2 separate regions of the Homo sapiens genome follow, and region 2 is linked to region 1. Evidence: fine-mapped expression QTL. A gene starts in region 1. The other region holds a variant in brackets. All regions are shown on one strand. Distances are from middle to middle.

Region 1 (5,358 bases):
AGAGAGGTCACCTGGGAGGGTAGGAGGCGGGAGATGGGGGCGGGGGGGGGGGTGGGCATCACGTCAGCAAAAGTAAGGAGACTGGGCCGGGCGCGGTGTAATACCTGTAATCCCAGCACTTTGGGAGGCTGAGGCAAGTGGATCACGAGGTCAGGAGATCGAGACCATCCTGGCCAACGTGGTGAAACCCCATCTCTACTAAAAATACAAAAATTAGCTGGGCGTGGTGGCACGCGCCTGTAGTCCCAGGTACTCAGGAGGCTGAGTCAGGAGACTCTCTTGAACCCGGGAGGCAGAGGTGGCAGTGAGCCGAGATCACGCTACTGCACTCCAGCCTGGCAACAGAGCGAGACTCTGTCTCAAAAAAAAAAAAAAAAAAAAAATTAAGAGACTGGAGTCTGGGCTTGCCTGGTGCAGAACCAGAGGCCTGACTTACAGCCCAGGCCTACCTCCCCCGAGCCCTGGTCCCTCCAGAGAACCCCAGAGGAAGAGACAGTCCGAGGCTCCTGCCCTTCCGCTGCCAGACCCTCAGCCTCCTGTAGCTTTCTGCCCCATTCCCAGATGCCATGAGGTGCTCTCTACCCTCCTTCTTGGGGTCCCGCTCCTGCAAACACCCAGGGACCTGAATGACATGAAGGGAGCCGGCTTCTGCCACACCACAGGGCAGGGCAGTTGGAGAAGGAGGGGCTTGGTAGGGCTGAAGAGAGCAGGACAATGTGGGGGTGGCCAGGATGCAAGAGGTGTCTGACTCAGGTTCTAGGCCCGTGCAGAGGGCTCTCCTGGCTCGGGGATCTCCTGGCATTCCCGATCTGTGACTCACTGCAATGCCCCACCCCAGGGAGCCACCTGTTCCCCCTATAGCTTGGCCTCCAGGCCCCACCCTGGCCCCACCTTGGCTTATAGGCTCAAAACCCTAGGAGTAACCCAGGATCGGGCATCTGCCTTCAGTGATGGGGAGGAACAGACAGCCTCTATGAGGAATGAGCCCCCCAAGTCCTCACTTCCAGCTGGGAACTAAACAAAGGCCATGCCCTGTTGGAAGCAGGAGTCCTGGGGATGCAGCCTCGGGCATACCTTTCCCAGAAGGTTCCCCTCTTCAACCCACTTCATGCCCACGCCCTGTGCCCTGCACACTCTTGGGAACCAGTCAAACCCGGGCTTCAAGGTGGCTGGTGCCAGCTCGCCCTGCCCAGCCTGTGACTGCACGCCCAGCCTGGCGCCCACCTTTACCCAACCAGGCATGGGAACACCCCTCAGCCCACCCTGCTGCAGGAAGCAGAGCCCAGGACCTTCTCACCAAGGTGTGGAGAGGGCCCAAGAAGGCCGCTTTAGGGCTGAGCTCTAGCCCATGGGCAGGAGCAAGGGCTGCTCAATACGTGGGGTGGTGGAGGAGGGGGAATGCCACAGGCTCTGCAGAGCGGGAGGCCCTACCGGTCCAGCTGCAGCCGCAGGGGCGAGGGGCTCTGGCGGATCTTGCTCTGGGCCTCGGCATGCAGCATGCCCTCCGCGCTTTCCCCGTTGATGGCCACGATTATGTCTCCAGGCCGGAGGTCAGCGTCCTTGGCTTTGCCCCGCTCGGCCACCTGTAGGGATGAGGAGCTGGCATGCTCAGACCGTGGCCCAGCTGGAGAAGGGACTTCCCACTCTGCTACCCAAGAAACACAGAGGCTGGCTTGACCCAGGCCGGCCTGCACCCTCCTGCATGTCCCTCTGCCTGCTCATGACACCCAGCTGATCAGCCATCCCCTCCAGGAGCGCAGGTGGCAGCCCCCACCCCACACTGGCATTCTAATGGGCCTCCCAAAGAATGTGCAGTGGCAGAATTTCAGGAACTGTGCTTGGAAATACTTTTGGATAGAGAGCCTTGCCCGTGCAAATCGCACCTTGCAGGTGGCTGCCTGCACAGCCCTCCTGTGAATGTTCCCAGCCTGGGCCCAGGTCAAGAGGAGACTGCCAAGAACTCCGGGGCTCTTGTTCTAGTAATCACCCCAAATGGCTGCCTGCAAGTGTGGGGATAGCAACTGGGGAGGCAAGAGCCGGCCCTGTCCTGGTCCCAGCTCCCTTTCACTCCCAAGGTCTGTTCCTGAAGTGGCCACCACATCCCCGTGGCAAAGGGCCACGGCTCCCTTACAGCCAGCACGCCAGGCAGCAGCAGATCCCTAGCTCCAGAACAGAAAAAGCAAGCCATCTGTGCAGAGTGGGGTGAACAGGGCCGACCTCGCTTCTGGCAGGACCTTCTCATCTCTTTGAGCCACCATCCTTACCTTAGTCACCATGATGGGCGTGTGGAAATCCCTGCCCCCTGTGATACGGAAGCCCCAGGGCGCTGGCCCGGCCACATCCACCGTCAACGCCATACCTGAGGAAGAGAGGACCAGGAGGTGAAGTCCATGCCCCTAGCCGGCTCTGGGGGCACTGTAAGGCAGCAGGAGAGGAGCCAAAGGGAGAAGGAGAGGGCACCACAGCTCCCGGAGCAGCTACTCAGGGGCTTTGGGGTGGGTAGAGGAAGTGGCTAACTCCCTCCCTCAGCCCGGTTTCACTTCCCCCCACCCTGGGAAGCCATGCTTCTGGGTTCTCCCTTCCTTAGTCTTCAGCCCAGGGAGCGACTCCCAGGAGGGGGCTGCCCAGGCTGCCAGGCAGGGGGCTTGCTGGAGCATGGGGGGCAGGGGCTGGCAAGTGGAGGGGATGCCAGCACCCCCTCAGTCTCCCCTCCTCCACCATCAGGGCTCAGTCCCACTAGCGCTTGCTTCCTGTCCCCAAAACCCACAGCACACGGTACTTCCTCTCCACTCTGGGGGAGGGCTGGTGAGTGGCCTAGGGAGAGCAGGGCTCAGGAAGCAGGAGTGACGGGTCAAGGAACAGGCTGGCACCAGTACAGACTGTGTAAGTCACTGGCCAGGTGAAGGACTGGTGGGGTGAGGCCGAGTCTTCACATGGGCCTCCTAGCTGCCCACCTCGTTCTTGGCAAAGTGGATCACACGGGCAAGACCGGGCTCCCCACCTCCCCCAGGGGCCGGCTGCCAGGGCAAGGAGGCCAGGGTTCATCTGTCAAGCTGGACACACCCACCCCCAGATTCCTGATGCTGCCCGACAGACAGCCGGGGTGACAGGCCTCCCATCCACAGCCCCTCCGCTGGGCAAGGAAGTGCCCTTGCAGACAGACCCCTGTGGGATTTCCTGAGCCTCTAGCTCTGGAGCCAGGAGCCAATCCAGGCAGGAAGCCGCGGTGCCAGGCTGGGCACCACCCTGCCCAGCACCCATCCTGGGGCTGCCCTGGGGACGCAAGTGCTGCGAGAATCTATCAAGAGCACCAGCGGTCTGTCCGCTCCATCCCCGGCTGCCTTCCCCTTGGGCCCAGGCCTAGCCTCTGTTCCCAGCACCGCCCCCACCCCAGTCCCCGAGGCCGGCTCGCGGCCGCCCCGAGATTCCCAGACCTTTGAGCCGGTCAGTGGACTCCGCGCTGCGGGCGCCGCGGGGAGGTGCCCAGCCCGATGGCCCGGCTCTACCAGTTCTGGAGCCTCCTTCGCTCCGAGGGCAAAGTACCCTGCGGGCTGGGGGCTGGAGGAGGAGCGCTCCGGCCGGGGAGAGCGCAGCTCGCGGGGGCGCCCCCGCTGATGCGAGGCTCCAGGGAGCTGGGCCGCGGACGAGGCCAGGGTTCCGCGCCGACAGGGGCGCGGAGAGGAGCCCGGCGCCGGGGAGGGCGGGCCGCGCGGAGAGGCGCAGGTGGGCGCGCTCACCTGGCTGCCGCTCACCTGTCCGGCTGGGCGCCCAGGCCCGGGAGGGAGGGAAGGCGGGGAGACGCCACCGCTCCCGCTGCCGTCTACCCGACTCTGGGGAGAGCCCGCCCGGGGCTCCCGGACCTGCCTCCGCCCATGTGATCCCGGGGCCGCCCCTGCCGCCGCCCCTAGCCCGAGAAGCCGCCGCCTCCGCGCGGCGAGCCCAGGCGCTGCCACCTGGCCCGAGCCCGCCGGGGGGATGAGGCAGGCTGTCCCCAGGGCCCCCTGCAGGCTGCGACCGTCCAGCCGGTGGTGCCCGCATCCTCCCCGGAGCGCCCGCAAGCCCCCGACTGCCCGGAGCACAGCAGAGCCGGTCCAGGGACTGCCCCGCGCCCCACTTCGCAGACGATCGAGGGGGCAGCCCCATAAAGCTCTCCCACGCCGGCCGCGCTCTCCCGCCCCGCATCCCCAGGTCCTGGGCAGGGTGGGCTGCCTGGGTGTGTCTGCGGTCCGCCTGGCTCCTCCACCCACTCCAGGCTGGGAGGCTGGCGCAGATGCGGCCTTGACACCCACAAATCCCAAACCAAGGCCACCCTCCTGCCCGCCAACTCCCTTCCTGAACGCTGGCTTCTCGGCAGCGCAGAACTTCTCTGCCTGGAATGCCCGCAAAGGGGGACCCGCAGGGGCCCTAGGAGATGGAGAGAGCCTCCTGGCTAGGGGTTCACTGGGCACCCCCACCCCTGGGCTGGTACCTTCCCGTTCCCGTGGGCCCTCACCTCATCCTCTCTGCAGGTCTTCACCCCGCTTCCTGCCCCCTCCCTTGTCCTCTTTCAAGCACCTGAAGCCCAGGCTATAAGGATGAGGAGAGGGCAGCCAAGGAGGGGACCCCGGTGCCAGCTCGGGGAGGAGAAGCCGTACCTGGCAACCCTCTCTCCGGGGACCTCAAGGCCATAGAGCCGCCTCTCGTTGGGTCTCCACTTGGCCTCTGGCTGCCAGGCTGCTGTGTTTTCAGGGGATCACACCTGTGGGCGCAGCTGTGCCTCGCCTGCCTCAGGTGTGACTCATTCCCTCCACGCTCACTCTGTGAAGAGTGCCCTCCCCACGCCCCTCACCTGTCTGTGCCCGCGTCTCAGCCTCCTTGCGTTCACACTCTGGCCCCCCTCCTCCCACAGACCGTCCTGGGTGTGTGTAAACTCCTCTCCCACGGGCTGGTCTCCGGCCTCCCGGCATGACCGCCTGGCCTGACGTACCTGCTCTGCCTCCCTGACTAGACTGGAAGCCCCTTGAGGGGAGAGGCAACTACAGGCAGGGTGAGCACAGCCCCGGGGGCACACAGACCTAGCCCCAAGTGCACAGCTGCGTCTCACCGGCTGTGTGACCTTCAGCAACCTCCTCGGCTCCTCCGGGCCTCAGTTTCCCCATGTGGAAAATGGGGATAATGTGCTGCTTACCGTCTTGTTGTAAAAATTGCTTGGCCACAAGCAAAAGCCAAGGATGGCACAGAGGTGTCAAACAGAGTCCCTGCCTCAAATGGGGTGGGGACTTCTGGGAAGGGACCCAAAGGAAGGGAAGTTCATCCATTCAATTCTTCCACACAATCATTCCAATAACATTCATTCAGTGAATACTGAGTGCCAGGCAC
Region 2 (5,358 bases), 420 kb after region 1:
GGCGTGCCTGCCTTCCTTGCTGGCACCTGCCCCTGCTGCCCTGTGGCTTTCCTTTTTCTTCTACCACCCTGAACCTTTCAGGTGGCCAAGGGTCTGACCATCATATTTCCCAGCAGAATTTCTAGATACATAGGGATGCGCTCCAGGAAGAGGGTTCTGGAGGCAGCACCTGTAGACTCTGAGAGGACTCTGCCCAAGGCAGGAGGTGCTTTGACATCAGTTTTCGGGGTTTCATAAATGTGCATTTCCCTGCAAGGACCAGTTCCAACTTCAAGTACTCTTTCCCTTACCTTGCCTCCTCCCACATATCTGGTACCAACCTCAAACTTGCCCCCAGTGATTATTTTCCTAATTCTGGAAACTCTGTCCCCACTGGTGGCAAGCTCTTACTCATGTGCAGTGCTTCCTTCTTTGCTCTGGGCTTGTCTGTCAATTGCAGGCTGTGCTGATGGCAGATTCCAGGTCTGACACTGCTTTCTTCTGCCCGGACAGCCCTGAACAGGGCTGGCTCTGGTCACTGGTGGGCTCCCAGTCTCCCCATCCTCGAATCAGCTCACTCACCCTGTGGTCTACACTCTACCCCTCTAGACTCCCCTTTCTGCATCCTCTGATCCTAAATTTGCCCTGAGAATAATACTCACCCAAATACGATCAGCTTTGAGGACTGTCTCCTTCTCTTTTCTCTGTCTTTCCTAGTGCCTTCCCAAAGCCATCTCTATGTATTTACGAGGTCAAATCTGCCAATGACTTTGGGCTGGCTCACCCTTTCTCTCAGGTTCCCTTTCACTCCTTGGGCCAGGTGGTCTCTAAAGTCCCTTCACCTCTAAACTCAGGTGACTGTGGCAGAGTCCAGGCCTGGGCTCGCTCCCTTAACCTCCTATCCTTTTGTTTTGTTTTGTTTTGTTTTGTTGTGAGACAGGGTCTCACTTTATCACCCAGGCTGGCATGCAGTAGCGAGATCACTGCTCACTGCAGCGTTGACCTCCTGGACTCCGGTGATCCTCACACCTCAGCATCCCAAGTAGCTGGGACTACCAGTGCATGCCATTGTGCCCAGCTAATTTTTGCTTGTTTTATAGAGATGAGTTTTCACCATGTTGCCCAGGCTGGTCTCGAACTCCTGGGCTCAAGTGATCTCGGCCTCCTAAAGTGCTAGGATTACAGGTGTGAGCCACCATGCCCAACCAGCCTCCTGTCCTTTAACATGCCACCCCAGTTCCTGTCCCCTGCCCCAGCCCCCTCCCACCTGGGCCCTGCCCTTCGGTCATGAGCTGGCAGGTTCCCCTGTCCCCCTCTCCATCTGGAGGGCCTTCAGCCCCAAGGTTGCATAACAGCATGGCATCTGAACTGAGAGCCCCTGAGAAGCGCAGGGAGGAAGAAAGGGAGGGAAGTGTTTGCTCCCACCACCCTCCTCACCCCCTTGCTGCCCCTTTAAATATTTGCCTAAGACTCCAGCAGCCAGAGAGTGTCCTAGGACAGTGAAAGGAGGGGAGGGGTGCCGGGAGGAGGGGGAGCCCACAGAAGCATCCTCTCAGCTCGGCCTCAGCTGTGTGCAGGTGCCAGATGTGGGAGACAGCTCGCCTGCAGTGCCCACCCCTGCCCTCCCCCAGGGCCCTTACTCCCGCCCCCATCATCCTGGCAACATTGGGATTGATCGGCTGACTCACGAGTACTGGGCCTGAGCCAGGTGGGCAGCTGGCCAGCGGGAGAGCCAAGCACTGCAGGCATCTCGGGGTCCCTGTGGGCATCTCGGGGGGCCATGTTGTTCTCACGTGGGACTTGTTCTTAGCAGGCACTGTGGGTGGGGTTTGCCGCCATCGCTGGGTGCTGGGAGAGGGATCTCTTTCTTTGAAAAAGCCTCTGCTCTTTCTGGTCCTTGGTCTCCCCTGCCTGTTGCCCTTAGGCTGTAGCTGTCACAAGCTCTGTGGCGGCTGCTGCTGCTGCTTCTTCTCCTTCTTTTTTTAAACCCATTTTTGCTTGCTTGAGGGCTGAGGGAGGGTGCCTGCCTCCTGGAGTGCTCACACCAACCAAGTGAAGGTCTTGGGTTCCTTGGAGAAGGAGACACAGAAGGACCTTTAGCTGGGTGTGCCAA[A/C]TTTCCCCCTCCCCCTACCAGCCCTGTCTGCAGCCTTCTCACTTTTTGGCCTGTACTTAAGCCGTTTCTCCCTCTGTGAAAGCCCACCTCCAATCCCTCTCCACTTCTCCGGTTTTATTTTTATTTTATTTATTTAATTATTTAGAGACAGGGTCTCACTCTGTTACCCAAGCTGCAGTGCAGTGGTGCAATCACAGCTTCATAGCTCACTGCAGCGTTGATCTCCTGGCCTCGTGTGATCCTCCTACCTTGGCCTTCCAAAGTGCTGAGATTACAGGCGTGAACAGTGCATCTGACCTTCCACCTCTCTGAATGCCACCCACCCAAACAGGCCAAGAGCCAATGGCACCTGCTCTGCGACCTCACTCCAGTTCATGGTGCCCTCTGAAATCCTCAGCCTCTCTGTGGCACCTTCACCTGCCATTCAGCACACATGAATGTTCCCATGAGTTACATGGGCGCTTTTTGTTGCTCTATCTTCCAGCCCAATTGCGGGCCCTGGGAAAGAAAGGAGCACGCTTCCTGCGGGCTTCTTTGAACCTGCCACTGGGCAGGAAGCATGCAAACAGCCAACACTTAATGATAGTCAATGATGAGACCAATACCAACAGCGGTCAATAGTCCATGCCTTCAGTATGTGGAGGTCTCAGTGCTTCCACTGGCCAGCTCTGGGACCCAGCGTGAGTCGTTCTGCTTTGTTAGGCATTAGTATGTTCATCTGTGAGATGGGTCAGGTACTAGCTGTCCACCTCACTATGCTATTATGAGGACCTAATAGCATCATGGGTGTGACATCCAGTCATCCTCATTAGCATCATCTACTTCATCCTCTAGGGGACCTCTCACTAGCTAAGAACACAGCCCAGACTCACCCTCTTTGTCTGTTTCTGGGTTGACTCCCTCTGAGAGCCCTGAGTGATGGACAGCCCCACGGTGGCCACCCCTTCTGTGTGGGCCTCCCCGTTTCCTCCTCCAGCCCCTCAGCTGCAGGGGTGGGGACAAGATTCACTTTGCTCTTTGTGTACTGGGCAGAGCCGTGCCAGGGACGGGTGGGGACAGTTGCCCAGCTGCCCCAGCCACCTCCCTACCCTCACTGCTTCCCTCCCCCCAAGCTGGCATGGGGAGGGCGGCTAAATGTGTGGCAGCAAGGAGACATCAAAGGGCAGGGGCATCCCTGGCTGGGAGAACACAACTTAAGCTCAGACCAGAGAATCCCCTGCTGGCAGAGTCTGGGGACAGCTGGGGAAGCATCTTAAAGCCAGTGGTCTTCGTTCCCTGGACTGGTGTGCAAAAAGCACAAGACTAGAAGCCCAGGCAGCTGACAGCCAGGCTCCCCTTGCCCCGTGCCTATGAGCTCTTAGGACAGTCATCCTCCGCCACAGGGGAGCTAACGTGGTAGAGAGCAGCAGTCTTCAAGCTTTTTGTTTTCAGGACCCCTTAACACTCTCAAAAAGTATTGAGGACCCCCAAGAGCTTTTGTTTATGTGGGATATGTCTGTTGATATTTACTGAGAAATTACATTTTTATTTACATGTGAATTTAAAATATCAGTAATAAACCCAATATAGGTTATGACATAAATCACATTTTTAATGGAAAAACGATTTTACAAAGCAAAATTATTTTACAAAGCAAAATAAAATTAGAGAGAAAGTGTCATTTCTTTACAGTTTTGGAAATCTTTTAAATTTGGAGCTTCATAGAAGTGAAAAGGGCAAATCATGTCTTAACAATATTAGGAAAATTGTTTTTACCTCAGAGACTTCCTGAAAGGTTCTCAAGGACCCCCGGGCTCCCAGGGCTACACTTGGAAGAGCCGTGCATGGAAGGACGACCGTGAACCTTGAAGCTGGGCAGAGTGGGCGGAAATCCCTGCTGATACCTTTTTCTTCTGGTGCGACAGGCCTCACTTTTCTTGTCTGTAAAAGGGAATTACTATCACCTGCCTCAAACGATTGAGAGGATTAAGTAGGGAAAGTACAGAGCACTTGCGATAGCAAGCTTAGGGGGCCTCAGTTTCCTCATTTGTTAGACAAAGGGCTGGACTGAAAAATATCCAAAGCGCTTCCCAGCTTTAACAGGCTGTGGTTGAGCGTGAGAAATGTTCCAGAATTCCACACAGTCCCACTCCAGCTCCAGAGGCTGCGTTTCCCTTTTCAGCTCATGCTGACACAAAGGTACATTCTGTTCAGCGGCGCGTGGAAAAACATGTGAATCCGGTTAGAAGCGCACTTCAGACTCCTCCAGGACGCCCTTGTGCTTCTAATCTTGCATGCTAACTTAGATATGCGTCTGTCACTCACGACATGCCCATGATGCTGCCTAGGGGATGTGTCCCCCCATGCAAAGAAACCCAGGTAGACAGAAGCACAGGGATCCCTAACGCCGAAGCGCCTCCACAAGGCAGTGAGTGCATGTGCCCGTGCAGAGACAGGTGAGCACCGGCGCGCACAGTCGTGCCCAGCAGAGGCACAAGCACAAGCTCACACGCATGCACTCACGCGCAGCCCCACACGCGGATGGCCCCAGAGACCGCCCGGTAGAGCACACAGCGGCCACGCCTCCCCTTCCGTGACTCCCAGGCCCCGCGCCGCCCCGCGCGCGCCCCCGCCGCCCGCGCCGCAGTCCGCAGCCACCCGGCGCGGTCAGCCCCGGCTGCGGCTCCAGCTCCGCGCTCCGCTCTTCTCTCCCGAGCCGGATCGCGGGAGCGAGCAGGGGAGGGGACCGCAGCCGGCGCCCGAGGGCAGGAGGAGTCCGCAGGCGGGCCCCTGGCTGCGGTAGCAGCTGCCGGTGGCAGGGAGGTGCCAGCCCGCGCGGGGTGGCCCAGCCGCGGGAGCGGTGGGGCGGGGGCCGCGGCCGCCGGCCCCAGGGAGAGATCGCGGGCAGCATGGCGGGGCTGCGGGCCAGGGGGGGCCCGGGGCCGGGGCTGCTGGCGCTCTCCGCGCTCGGCTTCTGCCTCATGCTGCAAGTCAGCGCTAAGAGGCCCCCCAAGACGCCCCCCTGCCCGCCCAGCTGCTCTTGCACCAGGGACACCGCCTTCTGCGTGGACTCAAAGGCGGTGCCCAGGAACCTGCCCTCGGAGGTCATCTCCCTGTGAGTGTCCAGCCCTGGCCTTGGGGGTTGGGGAGGGAGAGGAGGCCGAGGACAGCTCTGGGAGAGGACAGGAGAACCCCCGCTCCCCCTCTTCAGAGTGCGGGGACCAGGGGGACTGCAGGGGTCCTCAGGGCTGGAGATTCCAGGCACCAGTCGGGCAGGGAGTTCTGCA

Alleles and levels. Positions count from the first base shown, and alleles are read on the strand shown. Sizes are in standard deviations (SD) of each study's normalised expression.
In carriers of allele C in region 2, the expression in liver of the gene that starts at base 2,487 in region 1 tends to be higher than with A alone (small effect, 0.21 SD a copy in GTEx).

The links. PIP is the estimated chance that this variant, and not a neighbour inherited with it, causes the effect.
Region 2: its variant is fine-mapped to the expression of PDLIM2 in liver (GTEx, PIP 0.97).

The regions. Positions count from the first base shown.
Region 1 is chr8:22,577,604-22,582,961 of GRCh38, reverse strand. It overlaps PDLIM2 (PDZ and LIM domain 2), which reads right to left and starts at 2,487. Exons shown (of 9, transcript NM_001368120.1): 1 at 2,265-2,487; 2 at 1,432-1,583. The coding sequence starts at 2,357. RefSeq lists silencers at 592-886, 2,451-2,540, 3,271-3,430, 3,441-3,530, 3,631-3,700 and 1 more and enhancers at 561-1,253, 4,027-4,720.
Region 2 is chr8:22,156,165-22,161,522 of GRCh38, reverse strand. LGI3 (leucine rich repeat LGI family member 3) reads left to right here and starts at 4,717. Exons shown (of 8, transcript NM_139278.4): 1 at 4,717-5,186. The coding sequence starts at 4,981. It also overlaps a transcript of SFTPC not described here. RefSeq lists a cis regulatory region at 4,612 and an enhancer at 4,540-4,684. The variant A/C (reference allele first, on the strand shown) is at 2,093.